5 separate regions of the Homo sapiens genome follow, and regions 1, 3, 4 and 5 are each linked to region 2. Evidence: fine-mapped expression QTL. A gene starts in region 2. Each other region holds a variant in brackets. All regions are shown on one strand. Distances are between the middles of the regions. Region 1 overlaps H6PD (hexose-6-phosphate dehydrogenase/glucose 1-dehydrogenase). Region 2 holds the start of H6PD (hexose-6-phosphate dehydrogenase/glucose 1-dehydrogenase). Region 3 overlaps H6PD (hexose-6-phosphate dehydrogenase/glucose 1-dehydrogenase). Region 4 has its middle 21 kb from the start of LINC02606. Region 5 overlaps MIR34AHG (MIR34A host gene).

The links.
Region 1: its variant is fine-mapped to the expression of H6PD in whole blood (INTERVAL, PIP above 0.99).
Region 3: its variant is fine-mapped to the expression of H6PD in whole blood (TOPMed, PIP 0.91).
Region 4: its variant is fine-mapped to the expression of H6PD in whole blood (INTERVAL, PIP above 0.99).
Region 5: its variant is fine-mapped to the expression of H6PD in whole blood (INTERVAL, PIP above 0.99).

The regions. Positions count from the first base shown.
Region 1 is chr1:9,267,749-9,273,911 of GRCh38, forward strand. H6PD (hexose-6-phosphate dehydrogenase/glucose 1-dehydrogenase) reads left to right here. Exons shown (of 5, transcript NM_004285.4): 5 at 1-3,589. Among named protein-coding and RNA genes, the nearest start is that of SPSB1, 22 kb to the right of the region's middle. The variant T/C (reference allele first, on the strand shown) is at 3,437.
Region 2 is chr1:9,232,060-9,238,222 of GRCh38, forward strand. It overlaps H6PD (hexose-6-phosphate dehydrogenase/glucose 1-dehydrogenase), which reads left to right and starts at 2,715. Exons shown (of 5, transcript NM_004285.4): 1 at 2,715-3,007. RefSeq lists a silencer at 2,568-3,127.
Region 3 is chr1:9,255,570-9,261,732 of GRCh38, forward strand. The region is part of intron 3 of H6PD (hexose-6-phosphate dehydrogenase/glucose 1-dehydrogenase); the gene reads left to right. Among named protein-coding and RNA genes, the nearest start is that of H6PD, 24 kb to the left of the region's middle. The variant T/C (reference allele first, on the strand shown) is at 2,963.
Region 4 is chr1:9,404,618-9,410,780 of GRCh38, forward strand. No RefSeq gene overlaps it. Among named protein-coding and RNA genes, the nearest start is that of LINC02606, 21 kb to the right of the region's middle. The variant T/C (reference allele first, on the strand shown) is at 2,865.
Region 5 is chr1:9,167,943-9,174,105 of GRCh38, forward strand. All of the region lies in intron 1 of MIR34AHG (MIR34A host gene), which reads right to left. Among named protein-coding and RNA genes, the nearest start is that of LNCTAM34A, 11 kb to the right of the region's middle. RefSeq lists enhancers at 1,590-2,091, 2,092-2,591. The variant C/T (reference allele first, on the strand shown) is at 2,316.

The sequences.
Region 1 (6,163 bases), 36 kb after region 2:
AAGGAGAAGTTTTCAGAACCCTCTAGGCTGGTGGCTTTCAAACTTCAGACCATGATCTGCAGCAAGAAACGTGCCTTCCATCATAAATCAGTCCATTTGTTTACAACTGTGTTCCAAGCAGGTTTCATAAAGAAATTCTTAACCTTAGAACCTCGGATATCCTCTATGTTTTAGTTTTCATTTTTTTAAAATGCTTCTTAAAATTCACTAAATTGGGCTAGGTGTGGCTCATGCCTGTAATCCCAGCACTATGGGAGGCTGAGGTGAGAGGATCACTTGAGCCCAGAAGGTTGAAACCAGCCTGGGCAACATAGTGAGACCCCATCTCTACAAAAAGTTTTAAAACCAGGTATGGTGGTGCCCTCCTGTGGTCCCAGCTACTCGGGAGTCTGAGGTGGGAGGATCACCTGAGCCCAGGAGACTGAGGCTGCAGTAAGGTGTGATTGCACTATTGCTCTCTAGCCTGGAAAACAGAGTGAGACCCTATCTCAAAAAAAAAAAAAAAAAAAAAGGAAAGAGTGATGACAACAGCCCAGGGAGCAGCCCCGCTCAGAACCCAAGTCCCAAGTTCCAGCACTGTGTTCCCAGGCAGGCTGTTTGCCTCTTCCTGGTCTGGAAGCCCTTGGGTCCTATGGTGGCGGCAGCTCCCACAGTCCAGGTTCCCTGGTGGGGACCAATGATTCCATCCGCATGGAAGCCCACGTGTGCACTTAGGGGCCCATAAATGGCAGAAGGGCCCCTCCTTTGGGAGACCTTGTCAGTCAGCATCTCTAGGGCAACCGTGATTGCCATTTGTAGAGGGGAAGGAATCAAGGGACTTTAAGCTAGATCAAAATCTGGGGACAAATTCTCCTGCTAACTGCAAGTTAAAATAGGCCCTTCTTACTGAATTTCCCTGTTTGTTTCTCTGCAGACAATGCTTTAGCCCTACTCTTGGGCCCCCAAGTTAGCAGAGTAATCAAAGCTTCCTACCGTTTGGCCTACTATTCCAGACTAGTCCCTCGAGGGGTTCCCTTCCAAAATATGCAGGGCTCAGGCTCCCAATTCCGGGCCTGTCTGCTTTGCTTGTGTTTCTCCTGTCCCTGTTCTCCCGGAGGGCCCAGGTGGAACTCACGACAGGGAGGGAGACGCTTCCCAAAAACCTGCAGGGCTATTTCCCAGAATTTGGTTTTCAAGTACAAAACTTTTTGTCCTGTAAGATATATGCAGCCTCACAGAAGCAGCCTCTGCCTCCACTTTACCAGCTACGTTTTTATCTTAAGCACATGGGGCTCCCTTAGAACTTACTCCACTGATTTAAAAAAAAAAAACTGCCTGGCAGCATCTCAGTGTCAGAGTGAGCACGGCACAGGAAAGGCCCGTGGTGACGAGGGTGAGGTGGCCACAGTGACCGGACGACAAATGAGACTCTGCAAATGAGACTCCAGAGGGTGAAGATCTGCGGTCTCCAGACATCATAGGCCATGTGACCCACTAGGGGCCGCTTACCCCTGGCCGTCCGCTGGCTGAACTGAACGCATTCCCTCTCTCCGCAACTCTCCCGTGAGGCTGCACCCGTGTGGGTAGCACTGGAAGCGGCACTGTTTGCATTGTACATAGGAAGGAAGGAAGTTCTTCCAGCCTCACCAGCACCTGGCAGCGAGTCAGAGCCTGTGAGGGCATCCGAAGCAGTGATGCAGTGTCAACCTCCCAGCTGGTGCCACTCTGCCCTCGGGGGCTCCAAGCATTGTAACTCAGTCATGGGAGCTGCCTCTTTGGAAGTGCAGATTTATTCCTGTAATAATCCTGCCTGCTTTTACCTCTCGTCCACTGACCAGCAAGTGTGAGTCCCGGTGTCAGTCGGCACAGTCCAGTGTCCATCTGCATTTGCTCATGCAGAGGGGGTGAGTTGGGCACTCCCTGTTGTTGGTTTTCCTTTTGCAGCACACTGGGCAGTCTCCCTATAAAACAAAAACCCCACCTTCTGTGCCTTCTGCTTTAGAGCAGAGCTCCCCCTCCCATTTCCTCAGTCTTCCCTGCAAAATCTGTCCACCGGGGAAGGCAGCAGGAACCCTGGGCAGCGGGTGTTCTGGGAAGGCTAGTGACAGCAGATGTCATCCAGGAACAGCCACACACGGTTCTCCAGGCCGCCGTCAGCAGCTCAAGGTGGGGTATGAGTGAGAAGCTGAGGATCTCGCAGCTTGTTGCTGAGCAAGGTGCAACCGGGCTCATGCTGTCATCAGCACAAGACGGGATGGCAAGGGCTTTCAGACGCATTTCCAAGAGTCCAGCAAGCCAGGGGGAAGATGATCCCTTTGCCGAAGTGTACCCTCTAGCCAACTTTTGGGAGCGCTTCTGTTTGCAAAGCGCTGGGGATGTGCCTGTCTCTGTGTGACCCACGAACGGGAAGGGAGAGCACTGGAGTAATGACACTTCTGCTGCTGCTTTGATTCTCAAGGCTGATCTTTAAAACCCTCGCCTTGCTGACAGGTGCTTTAAAGGCAGTCTGCATCTTTTCTTCCCTTGGTGTGGGAGAGGTAAACACTTTGATTTGCTGAAAGCTGTATGGAGTATATTTGAACAGCTAGTAGTTAGCTTTGAAAGTGGAAGTGTGAACAGACACTACTTGTGTCGCTTTGGGTCCTTCACTTTACCCCCACAGAAGTCTAGAGGCGTCTGTTATAAAGCGTTACGGGGCGCCTGCATGCAGGAGGAAGGACCTGTATTAGCTGGAAATCATCAGGAACCCAGCTTGCCTCCATCTCTCTGAGATGTGCTGGGTACAGCCTGCCCCTCCTAGTTCTGTCCACCGGGAAGAGCCGGCTGGCGGCAGATCCCCAGGGGCAGAGCCCCTGCTGGATCCTGGGAGCTCATCTTTACCTGTGCCGGAGTGGGAACTGTGATTCCAGCCGGGCAGGTCAGAGTGGAGCAGTGCTAAGAGGCTGTTGCAGGAGAACTAGACGGGCGGGGCCTGCTGCATCTGGATCATGTTTCTGTGCTCTGCCCCGCGCTAGGGACTCAGGGTCTGGGCTTCTGCCAGGTGAGGAGCAGAGAGACTGTTCCCTTGGGTGGAGAGGTGTGGGCATGAGAGCCACCCATTGCCAAGCAGCAAGAATGTTCGTGCTTTTTTCCAGAGAGGGGAACCCCACTGGTTTTTGTGGAAACAATGGAAACTTACAGATGCCTGCCTGGGATGATGAGGCACATTCAGAACAAATGCTTTTTTTTTTTTGAGACAGAGTCTCGCTCTGACGCCCAGGCTGGAGTGCAGTGGCGCGATCTCGGCTCACTGCAAACTTTGCCTCCCAGGTTCAAGTGATTCTCCTACCTCAGCCTCCCGAGTAGCTGGGATTACACCACCATGCCCAGCAAATTTTTGTGTTTTTAGTAGAGACGGAGTTTCACCATGTTGGCCAGGCTGGTCTCGAACTCCTGACCTCAGGTGATCCATCCGCCT[T/C]GGCCTCCCAAAGTGCTGGGATTACAGGCGGGAGCCACCATGCCTGGCCAGAACAAATGCCTTTTTAAACCTTTTAAGAACATTTTTAAAATGTCTTTTTCTATGTCAAATGTAACGTTTATTTTTTTAAACAATAAAATTGATTTGCCAAAATCCGGGCTTTAATTCTTTATTTGGGGCATGAGGTGTAGGGGTTTGTGGGCCCCAGCGTCATGCTGTGTGTGTTCTTGGAGGAGGGGAGGGCTGCCGTGAGTGAGGGCCCTGAACCGAGGACAGCCGCGTGCCTGTTGCGAGTGTAAGTGTGTCTGACTGAGCAAGCCAGTGCATTCCGTTTGCAAGAGGGTCTGTGGGCCTCATGGGAGAGAGAGCAGTGGGCAGGATGATCTCATTTCATAGACTCCCAAGCAGTCTAGGAAGAGTCCCCCAACCTTCCCGGCAGCCCACTGGAGGGGAAGGAGCTCACCCCTGAGTGGGAGATCGGGAGGGGAGGGTCTTTGAGGACACCAGAGCCTGATGCCTTCATTTGTCTTCTCTCCTGTCCCTTGCCTGAGTCCTACCTCCAAGCTGTGTCACACTCCCAGGAATGTAAGTGTTTTGGGGAAGTCAAATAGGATTTCAGGACCACTTGAGGTACAGAAGTTAGAGATTTGCAGGTTGTCACCAACAGCATGCAGGACCCACACAGGCTTGGTGACATCACAAGGTGGCAAAAGGAGCAGCGCACACATTCGAAATAGGTGAGCTCTGGGCAGGGACCCCATGGCAGAGGGGACAGAGACGGGTGAGACATGCCCAGAGCCTGCAAGGGAAGATGTCACGAAGGCCAGAAACCAGAGCTGCAGTGACCGTCCCTGCCTGTCCCTCAGATGGGAGGCGCGCGGGGGATCTGCTGCTTCCCGGGGGGTAGCCCAGGGCGTCCCCTCCCTGCTTCTCTGTGGTGATGGCTGCTGGTTCCACAGTCCTCACAGAAACATGGCGGGGCAGGACTGTGGGACCCAGCCAGCGTCTGTGAGGGCTGCACTGGAGGGTCACCTGGTGTCCAGCCCCCGTTTGGGGACCCTCCCATACATGTGTTCTGGGGAGTTCCGATGGCAGGCATGGGGCGTGTGACCCAGTGCTAGCCGATCAGGACATCCAATGCCCACAGCCGCAGCAATGGGATCTGGGAGGGCTCAGGGCCCAAACTGGTCAAATCAGAGTGACCCCGAGGACTCAGGCTGAAGCGGCACCATTTCTCTGGACTCAGGCCTTGGTGAGCTGCAGCAGCCATCTCAGCGCCACGGAGGCCTAAGGACAAGGCTGGCATGGAGGAGAGGAGAGCCCCAGGATCCCACTTCGGGGGCTGTCTCTGGGACCTGATTCCAGTCTCCTGAAGTCAGCCTGCGGGCCTCGTTTCTGGGTGCCTAAACTACCTTGTAGCAGCAGAACTTAATAGATACTGGAGCTAGTAGCTTTGTTATGTATTTCCGGAAGCCCAGCAGAAACCCCACACTGACCTAAGTAAGAAGGTGATTCTCATGAACCAAGAGGACAGATCCTTCTGTTTGGGGTCAGGGTTTCAGCAGTCCAGTGTGGCAACACCAGTTGGGTGGCCCCTGCTGTGCAGCATCAGTTTCTTCTTGCTTAATTGGAACTGTTTTCCTGATAGACCATAGTTTTGGAGATGCAGGGACAGATGGAAGGGCAGGAGGGGAAGAGTTGCGCAAATCATAAAAGAAGCCGTGGTGAAGACAAGCTCAGGAGCTGCCAGCCTGAGTCCACCTTCTCCAGGGTCTCTTACAAGCTCTTTACAGACAGCCAGAGCCCGGGTGGGGTCAGCCAGCTGCCCCTCGCCACCCAGCTCCCAGCAGAAGGGGAGGGGATGCGGCTCCACCCATGCCCTCTCTTACCCCCATCTTCCCACTCACCTGTCGGGCTGAGGACCACGAAGGCAGAGACTCCATACATTCTGCTCCTTTTCGTGTTTCTGGCACTTTACACGCCGCCCTGCAGTGAATGTGTGAGTGAATGAATGAGTGAATGGCAATAAGGAAAGAGAGTGGTCAGCAAGGCGGCTGGAGGGGTGGAGGCCTGAGCGGGTGTGGGGCCAGCGGTGAGCCTGGCACGTGTCATCCTCTCTAGGGGAGGGAGGGTCTAAGCACATGGGTCTCCTGTGCCCAGAGTGGCCAGGGCCTAGGGGTGCAATGGATGTGGTCCAGCCATGGCAGGCCACCACGCTTGTTGGCACCGTGGGATAGGGCCACGCAGAAGCAGGGCAAGGTCTGACCCCCGCTCCTGACAGCTCCCACTGGCTGCTGATGGAGAGCAAAGCCACGGTCAGCGCCCACTGCTGGACGCTGCAGCAGGGATGGCAGCCAGGGGGGCCCCCAACAGCTTAGGGCTGCTCTGTCCCCCTGGAGAGGTCTCACTACAGCCCTTTCCTTTCCCCCGTCCCCACTCACTGGCTGCGGAAACCCAGCCTCATGAGTTCTGTTTGTCTGAAGAAGCATCGTTGGGAGGAAAAATTATCAAACTAAGCTCATGCTATCAGTCAGGCCCTCCTCCTACTCCGTATGTCTTTATTTTTTTACTGAAAAAAATAAAATACAGTAAGCACTCGGATGAGAATATTAATCCATGGAGATTGCCCCCTTCAGCATTCACTGTATGAGGCCTTTTTATATTTGCTTTTTTAAAAGAAAAAAATATATATATTTTTTGATGGCAAAAACCTGGACACACATATTT
Region 2 (6,163 bases):
TTGTAGCTGCGGTCAGCACGGAAACAAGAAAAGCTTCAGACAGGCAAAGGTGCAGAAACCAATGCCAGGGCCCACAGGGACAAAGTTTTCGATTTTTGTGTTTTGGGTGGCAGTACTCTCACACCAGGATGACTGGGTCTTAGCACGACCTAATCGTCTTCATGATGGAAAGAAAGCAAAGCAACTGATTGCCCAGAGAAAACTGGAAGGTACAGAGGCAGGATGAGACTGAGGTGAAGGTAAGGTGAGGAAAGACAGGCGGAGAAATGAAACATCTCAGGGTGGTGTGGGAGTGGACATAGGGTTGGGAGGGCATTGTGACCCCCTAGGCTAATTCCCCCCTCAGACCCCACCCCAACGTTACCTAATCAGGTGGACGTTTTCTTAGTAAGCAGGTTACAACTGACTTGGTTTGGGGCTTTGTTTTTTTTTCTTTTTTTTTTTTTTTGAGACCGAGTTTCACTCTTGTTGCCCAGGCTGGAATGCAGTGGCGCGATCTCAGCTCCCCGCAACCTCCACCTCCCAGGTTCAAGCTATTCTCCTGCCTCAGCCTCCCGAGTAGCTGGGATTACAGGCATGCGCCACCACACCCAGCTAATTTTGTAGTTTTAGTAGAGACATGGTTTCACCATATTGGTCAGGCTGGTCTCGAACTCCCGACCTCAGGTGATCCACCCGCCTCGGCCTCTCAAAGTGCTGGGATTACAGGCGTGAGCCACCGTGCCTGGCTTTTTTTTTTTTTTTTTTTGACACAGTTTCACCCTGTTGCCCTGGCTGGAGTGCAATGGCGCGATCTTGGCTCACTGCAACCTCTGCATCCTGGATTCAAGCGATTCTCGTGCCTCAGCCATCTGAGTAGCTAGGACTACAGGCACGCCACCACGCTTGGCTTTTTTTTTTTTTTTTGTATTATTAGTAGAGATGGGATTTCATCATGTTGGCCAGGCTGGTCTCGAACTACTGACCTCAGGGGATCCACCTGCCTCGGCCTCCCAAAGTGCTGTGATTACAGGCATGAGCCACTACGCCTGACCTGGGGCTATTTATAAGAAGCCCTCAAGGTAGCAGATCACCCTCTGATGGCCACATGGAGATCTGGGAAACGAACCCCCGGTCATGCCTCTGGACACCTGCCCACTTCTATCTGTGCCTTCCTGGGCCCTGGTTTTCAGAGCTATGTGGGTGCCTGACACACTCAGGGCCACAGAACATGGGAAGGGCTCTAGGCCAAGAGTCCCGGCATCATTCGAGTCTGCTCTGGCCCGCTCCTGCCCTAAGCCCTCCTGCTCACTTCCAGCTGTGGAGGTAGCCCAGAGAGTGCCTGGCTCCCTGGCTCCCCCCTCTGCCAGGCCCACTCAGTGTGACCTAAATCCTTGCCGAGGCTTGGCAGCCCTCTGCGGGCGCCCGGATGGCCTCTGGCCTTGGTGACGGTGAGGCCCAGCTCCCCTCAGTTCCCAGCCTTCCCGGAACCCCTTGCCTAACATCCTGTGTGGTAATCATGCCTGTTGGCCCCATTCAGTCCTGCCGGCCACTGCCAAGTTGCCACTGCTAGTTCCAGACGCTCCCACCTCTAATGGAACCATCGGGAAATAAAAAGCTGCAGCACAGTTTCTCTCTCAGGTCAGAATCTCCTCCCAGCACTTTGGGAGGCCAACGTGGGAGAATCACTTGGGCCCAGGAGTTCGAGACCAGCCTGGGCAACAAAGTGAGACCCCGTCTCTACAAAAAGTTGAAAAATTAGTCAGGAGTGGTGGCGAACATCTGTGATCCCAGTTACTTGGGAGGCTGAGGCGGGAGGATCACTTGAGCCTGGGAGGCGGAGGCTGCAGTGAGCTGTGATAGCGCCACTGCACTCCAGCATGGGTGACAGAGCGAGACCCTGTCTCAAAAAAAAAAAAAAAAAAAAAAAAGAAAAAAAGAAAAGAAAAGAAAGAAAAAAGAAAAAGTGGGGAGCAGGTTGGGGAGCATGGTGAGGGCCACCTACTGCCTGATAATGGTGGGGGACAGGAAGGGGACTGAGTGCTCTGAGAGGCAGCTGATCCCGTTTTCTCACTTAAATACCTCTCACCCTACAGAGAAGCCCTGATTCCATTTGCTGTCTTTCTTAGCAATGTCTTAGCAAAAGTCTTCTATTTGCCACACGGGTCCAAGCTTCCGCTTACTAAGCACCCAAGTGCCAGACAACCCCGGAGGCAGGTACTCCCATTGTCCCCACTGTACAGATGAAGAAACTGAACTCAGGGTCACACAAGTGATAAGGGGTGGCAGAGATCTGAAGCTGTGCGCGGAGGCGTGGCCAGCGTGTGCGCTCCGACTTCTAAATCCCTACTCTGGATATTGAAGACGGGAAAGACCGAGCCGCTCATTCTACAGATGGGGAAAAGCGAGGCCTGAGGAGTCCCAGAGCGGGTGCCAGATCGTAGGGAGCAGCCAGCACCCCGGGTCCCCTCCACGACACAACCACGTCCCTCGGCCACTTCTGGGTCCCGCGCGCGTCTCGGACGCGGCAGGACAGCTCTAGGACGCACGGCCACCAGGGGGCCGAAGGGAAGGGCGGGGGCGGAGGCTCGGAGCTGACCCACCGCCTCGCCCCGGAAGCTCCGAGGCCCCGCCCCGGCGGCCGCCAGCGGAGGGCGTGGCCTCGCCGGCGCCCCCGCCCCGCCCCCGCCCCCGCCGCGCGCGCCCCCGCCGCGCGCGCCCCCGGCCCGGGCCCCAGTCTTGCTGAGCGCAAGGCGGTGGAGGCCTGAGGCCTGAGGCCTGGGGCGGGGTGGCGGCCGGGCTGGCCTTGGCCTCGCGCCTTCCCCTGCGGCCGCCGCGGGCTCCGCGGGCGGTATCGGAGTGTCGTGCGGCGCGTGGCCGCGTGACACGCGCACTTGTCGGAGTGACGGGCCCTGCGGAAGAGGAGGTGCGGCCCAGGGCGCAGGGGAGCCCTCGGGAGCGGGCCCGGCCCTCAGCGCCGCCCCGGCCGTGTCCCGGAGGAGCGGCCTGCGCCGCCGCGCGAGAGGAAGTAAGCGCCCCCCGCCGGCCCCGCCGCCGCCCCGGCCCCGGCGCCTCCAACCCGCGCTGCCGCCGGGCCCGAGGCCGCGCCGAGCCCCGGAGCCTGCGCTGCCAGCCCCACGGAGCCTGGGGCTGGCGGCTTTGGAACTGCTCAGGAGGCGGCCAGGCTCCCTCCAGGGTCGCCCCGAGCGGCCGAGCTGTCCTTTCCCTGGGCTTCCCGGAACTGAGTTCCAGGAGAGGGGGAACTCCGAGATTTCCCCCGGGACCTGCTTAATCTTTGGCATTGATTGGCCCTCGGGTTTCACATAGCGTTTCCCGTACCCGGATCTAGTGAACGGTTTTCCAGGGGCAAACCTCTCTGGATCTCTGAAAATCAGCTCACCCAACCTTGAATGCTTAGCCAGAAGTGAGAACTTCTGGAAAGAAGTGTCCTTGCCCACTCCCCCTGCACCCACAACAGGCCCATGGCTCATGAAAGGCAGCAGATGAGGGAAAACTGGTGTCAAATGGGCATATTTTTTATTTTATCTTTTTACTTTTTTATATAAAAGTAAAAAATCTTTTACTTATAAAAGATGGGGTCTTGCTTGGTTGCCCAGGCTGGAGTACAGTGGCACAAACACGGTTCCCTGCAGCCTCCACCTCTTGGGCTCAGGCCATCGTCCTGCCTCAGCCTCCGGGGTAGCTGGGACCACAGGCGCACACCACCACGCCTGGCTAATTTTTAAACCTTTTGTAGAGACAGTGGTCTCACTATGTTGCCCTGGCTGGTCTCGAACTCCTGGGCTCAAGCGATCCTCCTGCTTAAGCCTTACGAAGTGTTGGGATTACAGGTGTGAAGCACCACGCCCAGACAGCGTATTTTAAATTATGCATCATATCCCTTTAATTTTTCATCATTATGATTGGAAGATCATGAAAAGCTGTCTGAGTTTTTCCTTGGCATTTTTCTGTGGTTGATGGTTAGTTGTTGCCCAAGCTGGAGTGCAATGGCGCGATCTCGGCCCACTGCAACCTTCTCCTCCTGGTTCAAGCGATTCTTCCACCTCAGCCTCCTGAGTGGCTGGGATTACAGGCGCGTGCCACCACACCCGGCTAATTTTATGTATTTTTTAGTAGAAACAGGGTTTCACTATGTTATCCAGGCTTGTCTTGAACTGCTGACCTCAGGTGATCCACCACCTCGGCCTCCCAAAGTGCTGGGATTACAGGCATGAACCACCGCGCCCAGCTGGTTAGTTGGTTTTAACAGCAGTTCAAGAAGCTAGCAAGAAGGACTTCATTCGTGAAGCTAATGGTTTAATGATAGAAACTAACATTTCTGGCCGGGCCCAGTGGCTCACGCCTGTAATCCCAACACTTTCGGAGGCCAGGGCGGGCAGGTCACTTGAAGAGTTCAAGACCAGCCTTGCCAACATGGTGAAACCCCGTCTCTACTAAAAATACAAAAATTTGCTGGGCATGGGGGCAGCGGATGCCTGTAATCCCAGCTGCTGGGGAGGCTAAGGCAGGAAAATCGCTTGAACCGCCCTGCCTCCGGTGACGGAGGTTGCAGTGAACCAAGATCGTGCCACTGCACTCCAGCCTGGGTGACAAAGCTAGACTTCTCCTTAAAAAAAAAAAAAAAAAAAAGCAGCTAGGATTTCTTGGGTGCTTACTGTATGCCAGGCATTGTGCTAAGTACCTTACATGCTTCCCATCGATTTGTTTTCCCATTCTGTGGTTGAGGTACAGAGAGGTTAAATAACTTGTCTGAGGGTACATAGTTACTGAGTGGCAGGGATTTGAATCCAGAATATTCTTATGTAACCAGTTCTCCAAAAACTAGCCCTTGAAGGTCTTCCACGTTTCAACAAAGCAACTGAGGCTTATACATGATGTCTTCATGATGTCAGAAGGAAGAACTGTGAAAGGCAAAGCGGACCCGGGAGGCAGAGGCTGGTTACCGCAGTTAGTGTTCGGAACAGCTTGACTTCATGGAGCAGAGAAACAGCCTGTCTGGTTTAAACCACTGTTCAGTATCTACACTGATACAGTGTAAATGTAATACAGTGTTTTACATTTTGCCATTCAGGGATGTAGTCACATTTTACGGGAAGGTTAGCTCTGGGACCAGACTGCCTGTATTCAAATCCTATCACCTCTAGCTGCTTGACCTTTGGTAAGTTATTTGACTTCTCTTTTTTTTTTTTTTTTTTTTTTTTTTGAGATGGAGTCTTGCTCTGTTGCCCAGGGGCGCAATCTCAGCTCACTGCAACGTTCGCCTCCTAGGTTCAAGTGATTCTGCTCCCTCAGCCTCCCAAGTAGCTGGGATTACAGGCACCTGCCACCACGCCTGGCTAATTTTTGTATTGTTAGTAGAGACGGGGTTTCACCGTGTTGGCCAGGCTGGTTTTAAACTCCCGACCTCCAATGATCCTCCTGCCTCAGCCTCCCAAAGTGCTGGGATTATAGGCGTAAGCCACTGCGCCTGGCCATGTTATTTGACTTCTCTTTGCCTTAGTTTCCTCTCTACTCCCTGCTAAGATGGGGATAATCATGTTACCTACCTCATATGGTTGTGGCAAGATTTAAATGGTGTGATGCATGTCACACCGATAGCCTAGCATTTGGCATATAGTTAAATACTCCATAAATAGCTCTTTTATTATTAAAAGTGTTGTTCCAAGTAGTAAGCTGCTGCTGTGTGCTGTGTCACAGTGCTTGAAGTCACCATTAGAGGTATATTCCTTTGTGCCGTATTTCAAATGCAGAAATGACAGTGGTCCTGTGCAAATGGGATTTATTTGTTCATTTAGCAGATATTTATAGAGCGCCTTCTGTATGCCAGGCCTTGTTTTGGATACTGGAGGTACTGCGGAGAACAAAACAAACAAAAGTCCCTGTCCTCATTGGCACGCACACTCTTGGGAAAAGGAATGGCAGACAATAGGCAAAATGAATGTAATTATCATACAGTATATTAGAAAGCGATGTACTGTGGGGAGAAATAAAGCAGGAGAGGAGGATGGGGGTGGGCGGTTTACAATTTTAGAGTGGTCTGAGTAAGCCTCACTGAGAAGATGACATTTTAGCAAAGAAAAATTAGTGAGGGAGTAAACCACGTGGACCTGGTGGGGGACATGGGGGAGTTGGCCAGGCGGAGAGAACAAGTGCAAAGGCCCTG
Region 3 (6,163 bases), 24 kb after region 2:
CTGTGCCAGGCCTTAGGTCCCTTTCAAATGCAAGATATTCCTGATTTTCCTGTTCTATTATTGCAGGGGAAGGGAAGAATTGTCTTTTTACATTCTCCCGAAAAGGAGAATTGGAAGATTTGGTCACCCTGGGCCCACACTCCTGTGAGGCACCACCTGAATGCACCTGAGGTACTTAACTGTACCTCTGAGGGACACCAGCCTTACTCCATCCTTTTCGCTTTTGCTGGCCCCGGTAGGCATTGGAATCTCTGAGCTTTGCCCTAGACCCCTCCTTCCAGAAGCTCAGCCGGCTTCTTCATTGTGCTCTGTTTCTAAAGGCCAGTGGTGCCCACGCCACTCAACTTCACACCGTTCTGTTGTAGGGTTGAAGAGTGGGTAATTAAAAGGGAAATGTTTTGGTGGTAAGAATTGCAGGCTCTGGGTCGAACTGCCTGGGTTTGAAGCTATTTTTACCTCTTTACCAGCTGTGTGTGACCTTGGGTAAGTTATCCAACCTCTCTGAACTTCAGGTTCCTTATATTTTAAAATAGGGGAAATAGAGGGGCCTCCTTATATGTTGTTATTCTGAGGATAAATGGACTGATCCACAAACATTGCTGGCATCAGTTTCTCTTTTTCTGGATGTCTTCTCAACAATAGCACAAGAACTTGAAGGCCACAACACTACAGAGCTGGGGGATCTCAGCCATTGTTTTCCCAGTGGAGACCACTCTTGGCATTTTGGTTGGCACAGTTGGGCTGGACTTCCTGCTCATTTCAAGGTTTAGTATCCCTGGACAGAGCTGCACCCTCTAGCTCCTGGTTGTTATGGCCGGGGACAGAGTGCCTTCCTACGAGTGGCTGCCGGCTTCATTTCTTGCCCCCCAACACTGGTGCTGCTGTCGGGAATGGCATATCGGGCTGGATTCAGGGCAGGTTGTTCCCCCAGCCATGACCTGGACATGCTTGCTGTCTGGTTGGCCCGAGAGTGCACACCACCAACCTGGTCAGGGCAGGTGCCCAGGACTGGCGCCATGGACCCAGAGTGGCTGCTGGGAGGGGAGCATGCTGGGCTCAGCAGGCCTGAACTTAGGATCTGCTGCTTTTTGTCTGTTGGAATTAAATGTTAACTAGATACTAGGTAAATTTAAAGTTTACAGAATGCATGGAAGAGATACAGAACTATGGTATAAGAAACGGGGATGCACCTACCACCCGTTTTTAAAAAAGAATTTGATTCTCCTGCGTGTCCCTCCCCACGTTCTGACCTATTTCCTCATCTTACACTTCCAAATTGTGGATAGATTATTCCCTCGCTTCTCTTTCTGTTTCCATGCACGCCTGGTTCCCTAAACAACCTGTTGTTTAATTTTGAACAAGAGTCATCCTGTATGTGTCCGAGCATGGATCTTTTTGTCTCTGTGTCCAGCATTTGGGAGAATCGCCTCAGCTCTGTCTTCTGCTAGCTGACTCTTTACAGCTGTTTCTCATCTGTAAGGCCCATCTACTGAATTTCTAGTTTCCAATTATATTTTTCATTTATTGAAGTTCTGTTTATTTTGGTCACTTTATATCCTGTTTTCTTTTTCTTTCTTTTTTTTTTTTGAGACAGGGTCTCATGCGGTGTTGTCCAGATGGGGTGCAGTGGCAGGTTCACAGCTCACTGCAGCCTTGACCTCCTGGGCTCAAGCAATCCTCCCACCCCAGCCTCCCAAATAGTTGGGACCACACTTGGCTAATTTTTTTTTTTTAATTTTTTGTAGAAACAGGGTCTCACTTTGTTGCCCAAGATGGTCTTGAACTCCTGGACTCTGGGCTCAAGTGATCCTCCTGCCTTGGCCTCCCAAAGTGCTGGGATTACCAGCATGAGCCAGTCCGCCTGGCCTATATCCTATTTTCAAGTTAATTTTTATTTTATCAAAGTAATCATGTTGCTTTCTCACCACATTACGTCTTGGAGGTTTATCCGTGACAATGTGTGGATCTTCATTTTCTCTGCTGTCCACTGTCTGAACGTAGTGCTGTGTTAGGGGCTAGGGATGCAGCAGAGGGCAGATGCCACTCAGATGGAGCCTCCCTCGTAGTGGGGAAGAAAGAGAAACAGGCCTGAATTACAGTCAGCTGGGCTAGAAGAAGCCAGGGCCCCTCAGAAGGGGTAGGCCAAAGCTCCTAGAAGCTGAGCCCTTAAGGATGACTGGGAGTTTGCTGGGTGAACAAACAAATCCCAGGTTAGGGGTCCTACGTGCAGAAGCCTTTGAGAAATGATGGCTCCTCGTGTCTGAGGCCAGGCTCTCTCTGTAGGTGAGGGTGTGAGGAGACTTGGGCATTGGAACTCTCCTGCGAGGTGGTATGCGTTGGAACCCTGATCTCTGGGACTGTCCTGTATATTCGAGTCACCGATAATCAGTGCTCACCGGGGTTCAGCCTCAGAGGAGGGAGTGGAGCGGAGCTCGTGGTTAAGCAGTGTCTGCTTCTGCCCCCGCGCCTGGTCACCTGCCTCCTTCCTCACTCGCGGAGCAGGAGTGATCACGGTGCCTGCGTGCAGGGTCTTTGTGAGTATGGGGAGGAGCGGCGCGGGCCGGGGCTGCTGTCAGCGTTGGTGTTGTTATGCTGGTGTTGTTACGTTGCTATTGTTACACCGGTGTTGTTACGCCAGTGTTGTTATGTTGCTGTTGTTACGCTGGTGGTGTTATGTTGGTGTTGTTACATCAGTGTTGTTACGTTGCTGTTGTTACACCCGTGTTGTTACGTTGTTATACCGATATTGTTACGCCAGGGTTGTTACATTGTTGTTACACCAGTGTTATGTTGTTGTTACACTGGTGTTGTCATTCTTATCCCAGTGTTGTTATGTTGTTATGTCAGTGTTAATGTTGCTGTTGTTATGCTGTTGTTACACCAGTGTTATGTTGTTGTTACACCGGTGTTGTACACCATTGTTATGCCGGTGTTGTGTTGTTACACTGGTGTTATGTTGCTG[T/C]TACACCAGTGTTGTTACATTGCTGTTAAGCTGGTGTTATATTGTTATGCTGGTGTTGTAACATTGCTGTTAACACCGTTGTTATGTTGCTGTTATGCCGGTGTTGTGCCAGTGTTATGCCGGTGTTGTTTTGTTGTTGTTACGCTGGTGTTACATTGTTACACCAGTGTTATGTTGTTGTTACACCGGTGTTGTTATGTTGCTGCTGTTACATCGGTGTTGTTACATTGTTATGCTGGTGTTGTTATGTTGTTGTTACACCAGTGTTGTTACATTGCTGTTGTTACTCTGGTGTTGTTATGTTGTTGTTATGCTGGTGTTGTGTTACTGTTGTTATGTTGTTGTTACGCTGGTGTTGTTATGTTGCTGTTGTTACATCGGTGTTATGTTGTTATGCCAGTGTTACATTGCTGTTACGATGATGGTGTTATGTTGCTGTTGTTACACTGATGTTTTTTGTTTGTTTGTTTTTGTTTTTGAGGCAGAGTCTCGCTCTGTCGCCCAGGCTGGAGTGTAGTGGTGCGATCTCAGCTCACTGCAAGCTCTGCCTCCTGGGTTCACGCCATTCTCCTGCCTCAGCCTCCCAAGTAGCTGGGACTACAGGCGCCCGCCACCACGCCCAGCTAATTTTTTGTATTTTTTAGTAGAGACGGGGTTTCACCATGTTAGGATGGTCTCGATCTCCTGACCTCGTGATCCGCCTGCCTTGGCCTCCCAAAGTGCTGGGATTATGGGCGTGAGCCACCATGCCTGGCCACACCGGTGTTGTTATGTTGCTGTTGTTACACCAGTGTTGTTATGTTGTTGTTACACTGGTGTTGTATGGTTACACCATTGTTGCGCCAGTGTTGTGTTGTTGTTACACTGGTGGTGGTGTTACAACAACTTGTTGTTACACCAGTGTTATGTTGCTGTTAAGCCAGTGTTGTTATGTTGTTATGCTGGTGTTGTTATATTGTTGTTACGCCAGTGTTGTTACGTTGCTGTTATGCTGGTGTTATGTGGTTGTTACACTAGTATTATGTTGCTGTTATTCCAGTGTTGTTACATTGTCACACCAGTGTTGTTACGTTGCTGTTACAATGGTGTTATATTGCTGTTATTAAGCTGGTGTTACGTTGTTGTTATGCTGGTGTTGTTACATTGCTCTTAACACCGGTGTTATGTTGCTGTTGTTACGCCAGTGTTGTTATATTGTTGTTACACCGGTGTTATGTTGCTGTTGTTACACTGGTGTTACATTGTTGTTACACCAGTGTTGTTATGTTGCTGTTGTTACGGTGGTGTTATGTTGTTATGCTGGTGTTGTTTTGTTGTTGTTATGCTGGTGTTACGCCGGTGTTATGTTGTTGTTACACCAGTGTTATGTTGCTGTTGTTACGCCAGTGTTGTTACGTTGTTGTTATGCTGGTGGTGTTATGTTGCTGTTGTTACTCTGCTGTTATGTTGTTGTTACACTGGTATTATGTTACTGTTGTTATGTTGTTATGCTGGTGTTGTTGCACTGCTGTTATGCTGGTGTTATGTTGTTACTCCGGTGTTGTTACGTTGCTGTTGTTACGCCGGTGTCGTTATGTTGTTACGCCAGTGTTGTTACGTTGCTGTTAGCTGGTGTTATATTGCTGTTGTTAAGCTGGTGTTATGTTGTTGTTATGCTGGTGTTGTTACATTGCTGTTGACACTGGTGTTGCTGTTGTTACGCCAGTGTTATGTCGTTACACCAGTGCTGTTATGTTGTCGTTACGCCAGTGCTGTTATGTTGCTGTTGTTACGCCAGTGTTGTTATATTGTTGTTACACCAGTGTTATGTTGCTGTTGTTACACTGGTGTTGCATTGTTGTTACACCAGTGTTGTTATGTTGCTGTTGTTACGGTGGTGTTATGTTGTTATGCTGGTGTTGTTTTGTTGTTGTTATGCTGGTGTTATGTTGTTACACCAGTGTTATGTTGCTGTTACGCCAGTGTTGTTACGTTGCTGTTGTTACACCAGTGTTGTTACGTTGCTGCTGTTATGTTGCCGTTGTTACTCTGCTGTTGTTATGTTGTTGTTACACTGGTGTTGCACTGCTGTTATTCTGATGTTGTTATGTTACGCCAATGTTGTTATGTTGCTGTTGTTACATTGGTGTTGTTATGTTGTTGTTACGCTGGTGTTGCTGCACTGCTGTTATGCTGGTGTTGTGTTGTTAGGCTGGTGTTGTTATGTTGCTGTTGTTATGCTGGTCGTGCTGCTCCATGTTCTCCAGGTGTTCTTCCCTTTTATCGTCACAGTTACCCCGTACACCTGACAACTGGACATCTGCGCCTGGGGGTCTTCAGCCTAAACACACCTAAACCCTCCACCAAACCCCTCTGCTTCCGCCTCCCCGTGTCTGTGAGCGCCTCCACTGCCCATCCCTCTGCTCAGGCCCCACTTCCAGGGCTCATGTTGGGGGCCTCCATTTTGCTCACACCCACCCCATCTGTCAGCAGGTCCAGTCAATCCTGACTCTGGGGTGCCTCTCCCTCCCCTCCAGCTCCTGTACTGCCCATTAGTCCAGGCCCTGTCGTCTCTGCTGGGCAGCTGTGCAGCCTCTTCCTTGCCTTCCCTGCATCTGCACCCATTCTCCCCCCAAGACCAGGGGTCGATCCCCAATATAGGTCAGGTCTCGTCTTCTCCTGCCTCAGATCCTCCAGTGTCCCCCCTACAACTGATCTTAGAAAAAAGTCCAGCCTCTTCGCCTTATCCTGCAAGACCCCTGATCTCCTCTCCAGCCTCACCGCTGTCCCCACTCTTTGCTCACCTCCATCTGGCCCCCAGCACACCAAGTTCCTTCCTGCCTCGGGGCTTTGGCACCTGAGGGTCCCTGCAGCTGAGATGCTTTCTCCCTGGCTTTTTGCGAGGCTGGCTCTTCAGGTCTCGGAGGGGCCTTTTCATTACCCTCTGTCACAACTGCTCTGTAATTTTGTTTACTTCCTTTTCTCTTCTTCCCACTTTCCCTCCCTCCCACTCCCCTGCACATTGCCTGGCACAGGTGTGCGCCCGGTAGTGAGGTGGCACTTGTTAGTCTCATCCAAGGGCAGGATGCAGGAACAAAAGTCAAGTAACTTACCCAAGATCACATGCTAGTAAGTGGCAGTCATACTCTGGGGTGCTGCAGCCCCCGCCATGGTGCCATAGCCCCCACAGTGCCGAGCCTCCTACTGGCAGTGGCCAGGCAG
Region 4 (6,163 bases), 170 kb after region 2:
TGTGCCTTGCTCATCCTGCATTTGTTTTGCTGGCTCCTCTCTGTCTGCCTTGGAGGAACGGATCAAGACTGTTCACCTCACAGGCCCTTGACATGAGTCAGGATTCAGAGCTGCCCCCTGCAGCCACCCACCTCCTGTCACAGGCTGGAAAGGAGCTGATTGCCCAGAACTCAACTGAAAGGAGGCCACACATTTCAGCCTGGGTTTCTATGTCCCCTTGTGTCTTGTTTATTTATCCTTGGGGCAATCTGGGTGGTTTGGTCCGTGGGAGTGGGATGGGCCACCCTCCCAAATGCTGGGTGTCTGGTCCCGTACCAGCTCCCTGCAGGCGAAGCCCGTTCTGCCATCGTGTAGCCTTTCAGCACATAATTGCTGAGCTCCTGCTGTGTTCTAGGCATCGTTCTAGATGCTGGGAAGATAGCAGAAATAAAAGTCCAGTCTATAGGAATAATAACTTCTTATTGTCATAAATAATTATTGTATAAAGATACATAATAGCATACGTGACGATCATGCCTACCATTTATTGAGCACTCAGGATACACCAGACACTGTGCTGAGTGCCCCATGTCCCCTGTAATCTTCACAACCACCTCTGTTTAGTATTAATATTACCGTTTGATAGATGGGACAACAAGGGCTCAGAGAAGGAAGGTAAGTGGCCACCCAAGATCACAGCTTATAAATGTCAGGGTCAGGGTTTGAACTCAGACCTGGGGCCTGTACTTCCAAACTCTCAGCCTGCAACTTGCCAGAGTCCAGCTTGCCCTTTGGTGGGTGGGGGTGATAGAGTTGGAGGCCCCATCCTGTTCAGGTCCAGCTCTGAACCTTATAGGCCTGGCCTGACACCTCCATTGCTCTGTGTCCTCCCGATCCTGGACTCCTCCTTGCATCTGGTTCTGACCCCAGATTCCTGCTTTCATGCTGAGCTCAGCCCAGCCCATCTCACTCAGCAGCTAACCCACCCAGAGGGATGGCTGGAGAGAGGGAACGCTGGCCAAGGGACCAGCTCAGGCAGGCGCTGGCAGTGTAGAGTTGCCAAATGTTGTACGGCACATACACTAAAAAGTTGTTTGTGGGCTGGCTGCCGTGGCTCTCGCCTGTAATCCCAGCACTTTGGGAGGCCAAGGTGGGTGGATCACTCGAGGTCAGGAGTTTGAGACCAGCCTGGCCAACATGGGGAAACCCCATCTCTACCAAAAATACAAAAAATTAGCAGGGCGTGGTGGTGCATACTTGTAGTCCCAGCTACTTGGGAGGCTGAGGCAGGATAATTACTTGAACCCTGAAGGCAGGGGTGCCAGTGAGCTGAGATTGTGCCACTGCACTCCAGCCTGGGTGACAGAAGGAGACTCCATCTCAAAAAAAAAAAAAAAGTTATTTATGGATTATCTGAAATTCAAATTTAACTGAGTGACCTGTATACTTGCTAAATCTAGCTACCTAAGGGGTAGGGGTGCAGAACACTGTGAGGGGATTTCAGCTATGAGGGGGCATAAGAAGGGGGTTTGGATGAAATTCCCCAGGAAGGGTGTCCTCAGATATTCAAGAATCTTTCATTCCTCCCTTGTAGACGTTCAGGTGCAAGCTTCCTGTCTCCTGATCATTTTCACTCCACCAACATGTGCTTATGTGCTTAACTAGAGAGCCGCGCTTAGAGTCACTATTTACATATCTTCCTGATCAGGCCCGTCTGTTCCTGCACCTGCTATCACCCCACAACCACCACCACCAACTCCAGCAGCCCTCTCAAGTTTCCAGGGCCTGTTTCTTTCGCCAAGAATATTCTTGCTCTCCACTCTGCCTTTCTCCTTGGAGCCCTCCCGCACCCCCAGCCCGTCTGTTGCACCCTGAACTTCCTGTCATCACACTGATTACACTCTATTACAATTGTGTCTGGACTTTGGGAAGGTCCTAGCCTGGGAGCCCCCTCCTGAGACACACACACACACACACACACACAATCCCCACTGCAGAGGATTTACAGACACCCCTCTTCCAAGCCCATTCATAGACCCCAGGTCGATGTTGGAATTTCCTGGTTACTTCATTATCTCCCATGAAACTACAAGCTCCATGAGAGCCTTGTTCACCACAGAGCCTGGTCTGGAACATGGTAATCATCCATAACAATCCATTCCAGTATCAACAAACTATCAGCAAAGGTAACAATAGTCTATATTAAGTATCAAGAAAGATAAATGGCCAGGCACGGTGGCTCACGCCTGTAATCCCAGCACTTTGGGAGGCCGAGGCATGTGGATCACCTGGGGTCAGGCATTTAAGACCAACCTGGCCAACATGGTGAAACCCCGTCTCTACTAAAAATATAAAAATTTGTGGTACACACCTGTCGTCCCAGTTACTCGGGAGGCTGAGGCAAGGGAATCGCTTGAACCTGGGAGGTGGAGGTTGTAGTGAGCCGAGATGGCACCACTGAACTCCAGCCTGGGTGACAGAGCAAGACTCCATCTCGAAAAAAAAAAAAAAGATAAATGAGCTGTGTGACCCAGCCCAGTGTTGGTGCAGACCAGATGCTTCTTGAATGCTGTTTGAACGATGCTTCTTGAATGCTGTTTGAACGAATGAACAAATGACTCAGTGCAAATGACCCAGAGCTCAAATTTTGTCTGCTGGGCTGGGCTCACTCAGAGTGTGCTCCTCAAGGCCTCCCCTGACCCCCAACCACAAGAAGTCACCTAGGCCCTGATCCTGCCCTTCCAACCTGTTCAGTCCAGGTTAACCTGGGGTTCCTGGACCAGCTCCCAAGATGGGTGGGCACTGGATCTGCCCAAACCAGGTGGCTCCCCCCTGGAGTTCCCAGATACCTCACCTGTGCCCAGAACACGCCCATCCAAGGTGTC[T/C]TCATGGGAAGGGACAGTGGGACCTCCAGGCCATGATTACAAGAACTAGTTCTGGCCAGGGGTGGTGGCTCATGCCTGTAATCTCAGCACCATGGGAGGCTGAGGTGAGAGGATGGCTTGAGCCCAGGAGTTCAAGATCAGCCTGGGAAACATAGTGAGACCTTGTCTCAAAATAAATAAACACATAAATAAATAAAGTAAAATAACTCAGCCAGGCACATTGGCTCATGCCTGTAATCCCAGCACTTTGACAGGCCAAGGCAAGAGGATCACTTGAGCTCAGGAGTTTGAGACAAGCCTGGGCAACATGGTGAAACTCTGTCTCTATCAAAACTACAAAAATTAGCTAGGCATTGTGGCACATGTCTGTGGTCCCAGCTGCTTGAGAAGCTGAGGCAGGAGGATTGCTTGAGCCCAGGAGGCAGAGGTTGCAGTGAGTCCAGATCGTGCCATGGCACTCCAGCCTGGGTGATAGAGTGAGACTCCATCTCAAATAAATAAATAAATAAATAAAGTAAAAGAACTAGTTCTGGCTGGGCGCAGTGGCTCATGTCTGTAATCCCAGCACTTTGGGAGGCCAAGGCAGGCAGATCACGAGGTCGGGAGTTCGAGACCAGCCTGGCCAATATGGTGAAACCCCATCTCTACTAAAAATACAAAAATTAGCCGGGCATGGTGGCATGCGCCTGTAATCCCAGCTGCTCAGGAGGCTGAGGCAGAGGAATTGCTTGAACCCGGGAGGAGGAGGTTGTAGTGAGCCGAGATCATGCCACTGAACTCCAGCCTGGGTGACAGAGCGAGATTTAGTCTCAGAAAAAAAAAAAAAAGAACTAGTTTCCACCTCAACTCAGACACACATGTCGCCTTTCCAAAGGGTTCCAGCCACAGGGCCATCGCTGAGCTGACATCGTGGAGCCCTGTCTCTGTGGTAAGAATTTTCACATCCATGGCCACATTCTGTGCTGTGCGGGGTAAATGCTGAACAACCAGCTATCTGGAGGGCAGGTTGGGGTGGGGGAGAGTACACATACATATGTGAACATAGAGTATAAATCCTACCACAAATAAGTGCTTGATTACTACCTGACCCAACAAAAGAAATAGCTCATAGTTTTTTTTGGTTTTTGTTTTGTTTTGTTTTGTTTTTTTTGAGATGGAGTCTTGCTGTGTCACCCAGACTGGAGTGCAATGGCGTAATCTCAGCTCACTGCAACCTCCACCTCCCGGGTTCAAGCAATTCTCCTGCCTCAGCCTCCTGAGTAGCTGGGATTACAGGCGCCCAACACCACACCCGGCTAATTTTTGTATTTTTAGTAGAGATGGGGTTTCACCATGTTGGTCAGGCTGGTCTCAAACTCCTGACCTCGTGATCCACCCACCTCGGCCTCCCAAAGTGCTGGGATTACAGGCGTGAGCCACTGAGCCTGGCCCAGAAATAGCTCATGGTATTGATGAGTGAGTGTGATTCTAATATGAGGGTTGATTGGCATTTTCATGTATGTCAATGAGTAAGAAACAGTGAAACAAAAAAGACATTCGGCAGGCCCTTTAAATCTGTGGATTTCACATTTATGGATTCAACTAACCATGGATCTAAAATATTCATTCAAAAAAAATGGACGGTTGCATCTGTACCAAACATGTACAGACTTCTTATTTTTGTCATTATTTCCTAAACAATACAGTATAACAACTATTTACACCGCATTTACATTGTATTAGGTATTATAAGTAGTGTAGAAATGATTTCAGATATACGAGAGGATATGTGTAGGTTATATGCAACTACTACACCAATTTATATAAGGGATTTGAGCATTCGTGGATTTTGGTATCCAAGGGAGGGTCCTGAAACTAATGGGTCCAGATGGGACAACAAGGGCTCAGGGAAGGAAGGTAAGTGGTTGCCCAAGATTGAAGCTTATAAATGTCAGGATCTGAGGTCGGGAGTTCAAAACCAGCCTGACCAACATGGAGAAACCCCGTCTCTACTAAAAATACAAAATCAGCCGGGCGTGGTGGTGCGTACCTGTAATCCCAGCTACTTGGGAGGCTGAGGCAAGATAATTTCTTGAACCCGGGAGGTGGAAGTTGCGGTGAGCCTAGATTGCGCCGCTGCACTTCAGCCTGGTGACAGAGTGAGACTCCGTCTCAAAATAAAAAAATAAATAAATAAATGTCACAGCCAGGGTTTGAACTCACACCTGGAGCCTATGCTTCCAAACTCTCGGCCTGCAACTTGCCAGGGCCCAGCTTGCCCTTTGGTGGGTGGGAGTGATAGAGTTGGAGGCCCCATCCTGTTCAGGTCCAGCTCCAAACCTCACAGGCCTGGCCTGACACCTCCACTGTTCTGTGTCCTCCAGGTCCTGGGCTCCTTCTTCCACCTGGGTGGCTGGGTCTGGGATACCAAGGGACAACTATATATTGGAACTTTACTTTTTTTTGCTAAATTGGATAACAGCTTTGAATACTGGGAGAATAGTTCCTTATCTTTTGTACTATTCACAATGTTATTGCTAGAAGTACAATTCACTTTCAAGTTTAATTTGCAATATTAACTTTTTGTTTTGGAGTCTCACTCTGTGGCCCAAGCTGGAGTGCAGTGGCACAATCTCGGCTCAGTGCAACCTCCACCTCCTGGGTTCAAGTGATTCTCCTGCCTCAGCCTCTCAAGTAGCTGGGGTTACAGGTATGCGACACCACACCAAGCTAATTTTTGTATTTTTAGTAGAGACAGGGTTTCATCATGTTGGCCAGGCTGGTCCTGAACTCCTGACCTCAGTGATCTGCCCACCTCGGCCTCCCAAATGCTGAGATTACAGGTGTGAGCCACCGTGCCTGGCCAATATTAACATTTTCTCCATTGCTTTCTTAAATCTAGAAAATCAACAAAAGAGTAAAGAAAGCCCTGGCTGAGAGCATTTGCCCATTTCTGTGGTGTAAATACTCCCAGCGCAGTTGGTTTTGAGGTCCCAGAGTGACATTGTTGAATGTGGAGTTGGGAAGAGGTGTTCAGTAGCCACCATTACTAGCACTTCCACAAGGCAGAGACCATGGATATAAATAACCTCAGGGCATAGGTAAAATGTAGTAAGATAATTAGGAAGCCAGGAGTCTTGAGTCTTTAGAGCTTTGTTTTTAATATAATTTATTTAATCGTAAGTGTATAGAACTTAATTGTTAATGATGGCTGTATTTACAAACTGGCTCCAATGATTTCTGAAAATCATCAGTCAACCCTCCTGAGTCAGTACAAGTCAGCTCCACCGTGCCGTGAACCCATTCCCCTACAGCTCTAT
Region 5 (6,163 bases), 64 kb before region 2:
GGTGTCACCAAGACCTTCCACCTCCCCAGGCTCTCTGTTGTGCAAAAGGGATTCACACACCTAGAGACAGGGCTGGAGCTGGGTGGCCATGGGACTGACCTAGAGGGACAGCTCATATGCTCCACCATTCTTGAGGGCATCTACTTCCCAGCTAACATGTAAAGCAAGAAATTCAGACCAGGCACGGTGGCTCACACCTGTAATCCTAATGCTTTGGGAAGCTGAGGTGGGAGGATCTCTTGAGCCCAGGAGTTTGAGACCAGCTTGGGCAACACAGGGAGAGGCCATCTCTAAAAAAATATTTTAAAATCATCCAGGTGTGCACCTGTAGTCCCAGTTACTCAAGAGGCTGAGGAGGGAGGATCGCTTGAACCCAGGATTTTGAGGCTGCAGTAGGCTATGATCACACCACTGTACTCCAGCCTGAGCAACAGAGCAAGACCCTGTCTCTAAAAATAAAATAAAATAAATGCAATGTGGGCATAACATCATATTTTGAGGACATACTATACATTGAAAAATGTCAAGGAAAATGGATAGGTTGATAATATTCAAAATAATCTAAAGTGTGTGTGTGTGTGTGTGCATGCGTGTGTGTATGTGTCTTTAGTTCAAGAATATATGGTGCAGGGCTGAGCACAGTGGCTCATACCTGTAATCCCAGAACTTTGGGAGGCCAAGGCCGGCAGATCACTTGAGCCCAGGAGTTCGAAACCAGCCGGGGCAACATGGTGAAACCCTGTCTCTAAAAAATAAAAAAAAATTAAAAAAAGAATATATGGTGCAAAGGCAAATAAAAGCAATGTTTCCAGTGGGCTAGATGGAGAAGTCCCTTTGCTGCCTCTCTGGGTCACATGGGAGAAGCACAGTTCCCTGTAGCCCCCATCCGGGGTCCTGGTACTCTGTAAAGGCTGCCAGACCTGGGGGTGAACCAGTGATCTGGGATGCAAGGGAGCAGGCAGTGGAAGAGACAGGAGCCAAGCAGATACAAGTTCACCACACTGGGCCATGCGTTCCTGGAGGAAACCTACTTCCTTCCATCCACAGGGAAGGGACTCAACACAGAGTGTTTTTATAAAGAGTGTCAGGACCCAATGTCTGAATGTGGGGGGATAGCCCACGGCTGGCCCAAGGAACATGTGTGGACCACCAAGCGCTGTCCTCTCTCTTCCTGTCCCCATATAGAGATGATTTGCTTTCCAATCACATCTACAAGTACTCGGTGTCTTTGGCCCTTGCCTGACCCCTGGTTCATGGCAAAACCTACCCTTGGGTAAATACCAGATGCCCTGATGTGGAATGGGTTGGTGCCGCAGGAGACTCATCTTCAGTGGATTCTGCATTTGAATATGGAATACATTTTCTTTTCTTTTCTTTTTTTGAGACAGAGGCTCGCTCTGTTGCCCAGGCTGGAGTGCAATGACATGCTCTTGGCTCACTGCAACCTCTGCCTCCCGGGTTCAAGTGATTCTCCTGCTTCAGCCTCCCAAGTAGCTGGGATTACAGGTGTGCACCACCACACCCGGCTAATTTTTGTATTTTTGCAGACACGGGGTTTCCCCATGTTGGCCAGGCTGGTCTTAAACTCCTGACCTCAGGTGATCCACCCGCCTCGGCCTCCCAAAGTGCTGGGATTATAGGCGTGAGCCATGGTGCCAGGACTGGAATACATTTTCTATCTGGCTTAAGCCAAAAGAATGAAGCTCTAATGGCTGAATTTCAGCCACAAACCAGCTCACTGAAGGAGATTGGGTGGAGGCAGGCAGCATAAGGGGAGGTGTCCCTGAGCTCACAGACCAGGGCCCTCCTCACTCAGATGCTGGCTCTATGCCCCCCAGGCCTTCTGGGGCCAGCCTCTCTGCCTTGAGGCCCCACCCTTCTAGCTTCACAAGTAACTCTTACTCATCCTTCAGGCCTCGGTTAAGCGCCCTACAACCCCCCTCACTCAGCTATGGGCTCCCAGTGCCCACCCCAAGCATCACACGTCTCCCTGCATCATGGTGGCCAACTCGCTTGTACCTCCCTCTCACCAGACTGAGTGTCAGCTTCCTGTTCCTACTCCCAGCACCTAGCCCAGCAGACAGGACATAGTGAGTGCCAGTAAAGGTCTGTTGAGAAAGCACAGGAGGAGGAGTGGGCAAAAAAAGACGGGCAGCGCTGCCAGCCAGCCTGCGCTGTCAGCGGACCGCACGTTCCAATCCTTCAAGAGCTTAATGATCAGGCTGAGCCTCAGGTGTTTAGTCTGTCGTCAGCCCAGAAAACACAGGTGAGGCAGCAGATGGGAAAGTGCTTTAAAAACTGTAACTGGGGCCGAG[C/T]GCTGTGGCTCATGACTGTAATCCCAGCACTTTGGGAGGCCGAGGCAGGTGGATCACAAGGTCAAGAGATCGAGACCATTCTGGCTAACATGGTGAAACCCCATCTCCACTAAAAATACAAAAAATTAGCCAGGTGTGGTGGCAGACACCTGCAGTCCCAGCTACTCAGGAGGTTGAGGCAGGAGAATCGCTTGAACCTGGGAAGTGGAGGTTGCAGTGAGCCGATATCATGCCATTGCACTCCAGCCCAGGTGACAGTGTGAGACTCTGTCTCAAAAAAATTATAAAAAAACAAAACTGTAACTGCAGGGAGTCACACTTCCATTTCAGACCATCTTTGAGTACACCTAATTTTTTTTTAAAACTGAGACTTGCTCTGTCACCCAGGCTGGAGTGCAGTAGCACGATCTCAGCTCACAGCAATCTCCACTCCTGGGTTCAAGTGATTCTCCTGCCTCAGCCTCCCGAGTAGCTGGGATTACAGGCACCCGCCACCACGCGTGGCTAATTTTTTGTATTTTTAGTAGAGACAGGATTTCACCATGTTGGTCAGGCTGGTCTCGAACTCCTGACCTCAGGTGATCCACCCACCTCGGCCTCCCAAAGTGCTGAGATTACAGGCGTGAGCTACCGTGCCCGGCCAAGTACACCTAATTCATAAGTTGACAATGATTTGGACTTTTCACAAGGTTATTTGGCAAGTTGGCTGCTTGCAACTAGGAATGCCACGCCCCAAAGTCACAATACCATAAGTGTGGCAGGTTTGTAGGCTCAGCCAGGACAGTCCATTGTACTGTGGGACCTCAGATATCCAGCAACATGGGGCATCATCCCCTCGTGGGTCAGGGTGCCTCACTTCACTTATTCCCCCTTGGCACCTAGCATGATGGGGAGCCAGGGCCAATACCTGGATAACCAGTGAATGAATGAAAGGATGAGAAGTAATCCAAAAACAGCAGCAATAGCAATATCAACAGCGGCCCCACTACGCGTCAGGCACTGTTCTTCATTCTTTTACTGCGTCACTCATTGCAGTGGACTGAAAAACACCCTGGAGAGATAGCCACATCAAATCCCTGCAACCAGAGCATGTGGGTCTTTGCGGAGCTGATTAAGATTATGAGATGAGACCATCTTGGATGATCTGGGTGAGCCCGAAGACAGGTGTCCTTAGAAACAGAGGCAGAAGGAAATTTAAGACAGTCAGAAGAGGAGAAGACACAGACACACAGAGAAGGCCACTGAAAGAGGCAGAGACTGGAGTGATGCAGCCACCAGCCCAGGAATGCTGGGACAGTCACCAAAGCTAAAGAGAGACAAGGGAGGCTTCTTCCCTAGAGCCTCCAGTGGGAGTATGGCCCTGCTGGATTTCAGATTTCTGGCCTCCAGAACTGTGAGAGAATAATTTAAGCCATCCAGCAGCCACAGGAAATTATTATACTCCTGGAGTCACGAATAAGCTCATTCACAACTGCAATGGGGTTGTTACAGAGAGACAGGGTAGGAAAGCAGCCTCTGGGCTGGGCACGGTGGCTTATGCCTGTAATCACAGCACTTTGGTGGCTCATGCCTGTAATCACAGCACGTTGAGAGGCTGAGGTGAGTGGATCGCTTGAGCCCAGGAGTTCAAGACCAGCCTGGGCAACATGGCGAAACCCATCTCTACAAAAAAAAAAAAAAATTAGCCAGGCATGGTGGCACATGCCTATAGTCCCAGCTACTTGGGAGGCTAAAGTGGGAGGACGGCTTGAGTCTGGGAAGTCAAGGCTACAGTAAGCCATGATCACCCCACTGCACTCCAGCCTGAGCAACAAAGCAAGACACTGTCTTAAAAAAAAGAAAGTCTCTGAGCAGCTCAAACTCCTGCGCTCAAGTTCCTGTCCCTCCTCAGAACATACTGTTACCCTCAACATGGTGTTTTGTTAATATCTCATATTCTGTTAATCAATACTCTCCTTGGATAAACACTCACTCCACTCCCAACTTCACAGCTGAAATTCAATATCAAGTAAATAGCACAACTAAAGCTAAGCTAAAGGAAAGTGATGAATCAAAGCAATGCTTTGTTTCCAAATGACCTCTGGCCCCTCATTCTGACATTGGGGTGAGGCCCAGCTTGCCCTTGAACTCCACTGTATGAACTCATTTTTTATTTTTTTTTCACAGAGTCTCACTCTGTCGCCCAGGCTGGAGTGCAGTGGCATGATCTTGGCTCACTGCAATCTCCGCCTCCCAGGTTCAAGCAATTCTGCCCCAGCCTTCCGAGTAGCTGGGATTACAGGTGCACGCCACCACGCCTGGCTAATTTTTGTATTTTTAGTAGAGATGGGGTTTCACCATGTTGGCCAGGCTGGTCTCGAACTCGTGACCTCAGATGATCCACCTGCCTCAGCCTCCCAAAAGTGCTGGGATTACAGGCACGACCCACCATATCCAGCCTGAAGAAGCCTCCCTTGTCTCTTTTTACCTTTGGTGGCTGTCCCAGCATTCCTGGGCTGGCTGCATCACTCCAGTCTCTGCCTCTGTCTTTCAGTGGCCTTCTCTGTGTGTCTGTGTTTTCTCCTCTTCTGACTGTCTTAAATTTCCTTCTGCCTCTGTTTCTAAGGACACCTGTCTTAGGGCTCACCCAGATCATCCAAGATGGTCTTATTTCAAAATCTTAACCTAAATAGGAATGAGGGTTCCTGACCCCACAGTAATTTAGAAGCAGCAACTTGGAAGGGAGGGAAAGGTTTGCTGAAATCAGATTCACCGGCAAGAACAAGGAAAGACAAGTGAGAGAAAGAGAACAAGAGAAGAAATGGAAATTCTATAAACCACATTCGTGACACTTAAAAAAGCCCTGCCACCTGAGGCCAGGTAAAATTGTGTTTATTCTGTTTTAAGAAGAGGGAAGCATGAATTATATTCTGGAAAGACTTCCAACCAAAAACGAAACAATTGAAAAGTGCCGGTACAGGGAGGAATTTTTTTTTTTTTTTTTTTTTTGAGGCAGGGTCCCGCTCTGTCACCCAGGAGGGAGTGCAGTGGCACAGTCATGGCTCACTGCAGCCTCAACCTCCAGGGCTCAAATAATCCTCCTGCTTCATCTTTTTTGATTTTTTTGTAGAGACAGTGTTTCGCCGTGTTGCCCAGGCTGGTCTCGAACTCCTGGGCTCAAGCAATCCTCCCTCCTCAGCCTCCCAAAGTGCTGGGATTACAGGCATGAGGCACCGCACCCAGCCAGGATGAATCTTTAGCTGTCTAAAACACTTGCTGGGTGCGGTGGCTCACGCCTGTAATCCCAACATTTTGGGAGACTAAGGCAGGTGGGTCACTTGAGGTCACGAGTTCAAGACCAGCCTGGCCAACATGGTCAAACCTCGTTTCTACTAAAAATACAAAAATTAGCCAGGCGTGGTGGCATGCACCTGTAATCCCAGCCACTTGCAAGGCTGAGGCAGGAGAATCGCTTGAACCTGGGAAGCGGAGGTTGCAGTGAGCTGAGATCATGCCATTGCACTCCAGCCTGGGAGTCGCAATGAGACTCTGTCTCAAAATAAAATAAAATAAAATAAAAATAAAACACTCAAGGTTTCCCAGGAACCTGTCTGCCTGGTGTTGAGGCTCCTGTTCAGAGGTATCTTGTGCCCCAAAGACAAACCACCTCAAGGGGTGACATCCCGCTCCCTCCCATTTTCCTAGTGAAGTGAGGAGGCAGGGTGCAGTGGCCACTGCTTCTGGCCCCCTACCTGCCCTGAGGCATGACTGAGCCCCATGGGGTTGCCCCACACCTGCCCTCAGAACCTCTGCACTCCTACCTGCTGTTCCCTTTGCCTGCTTGTGCCTGCAGTGGACTCCAGGATGGT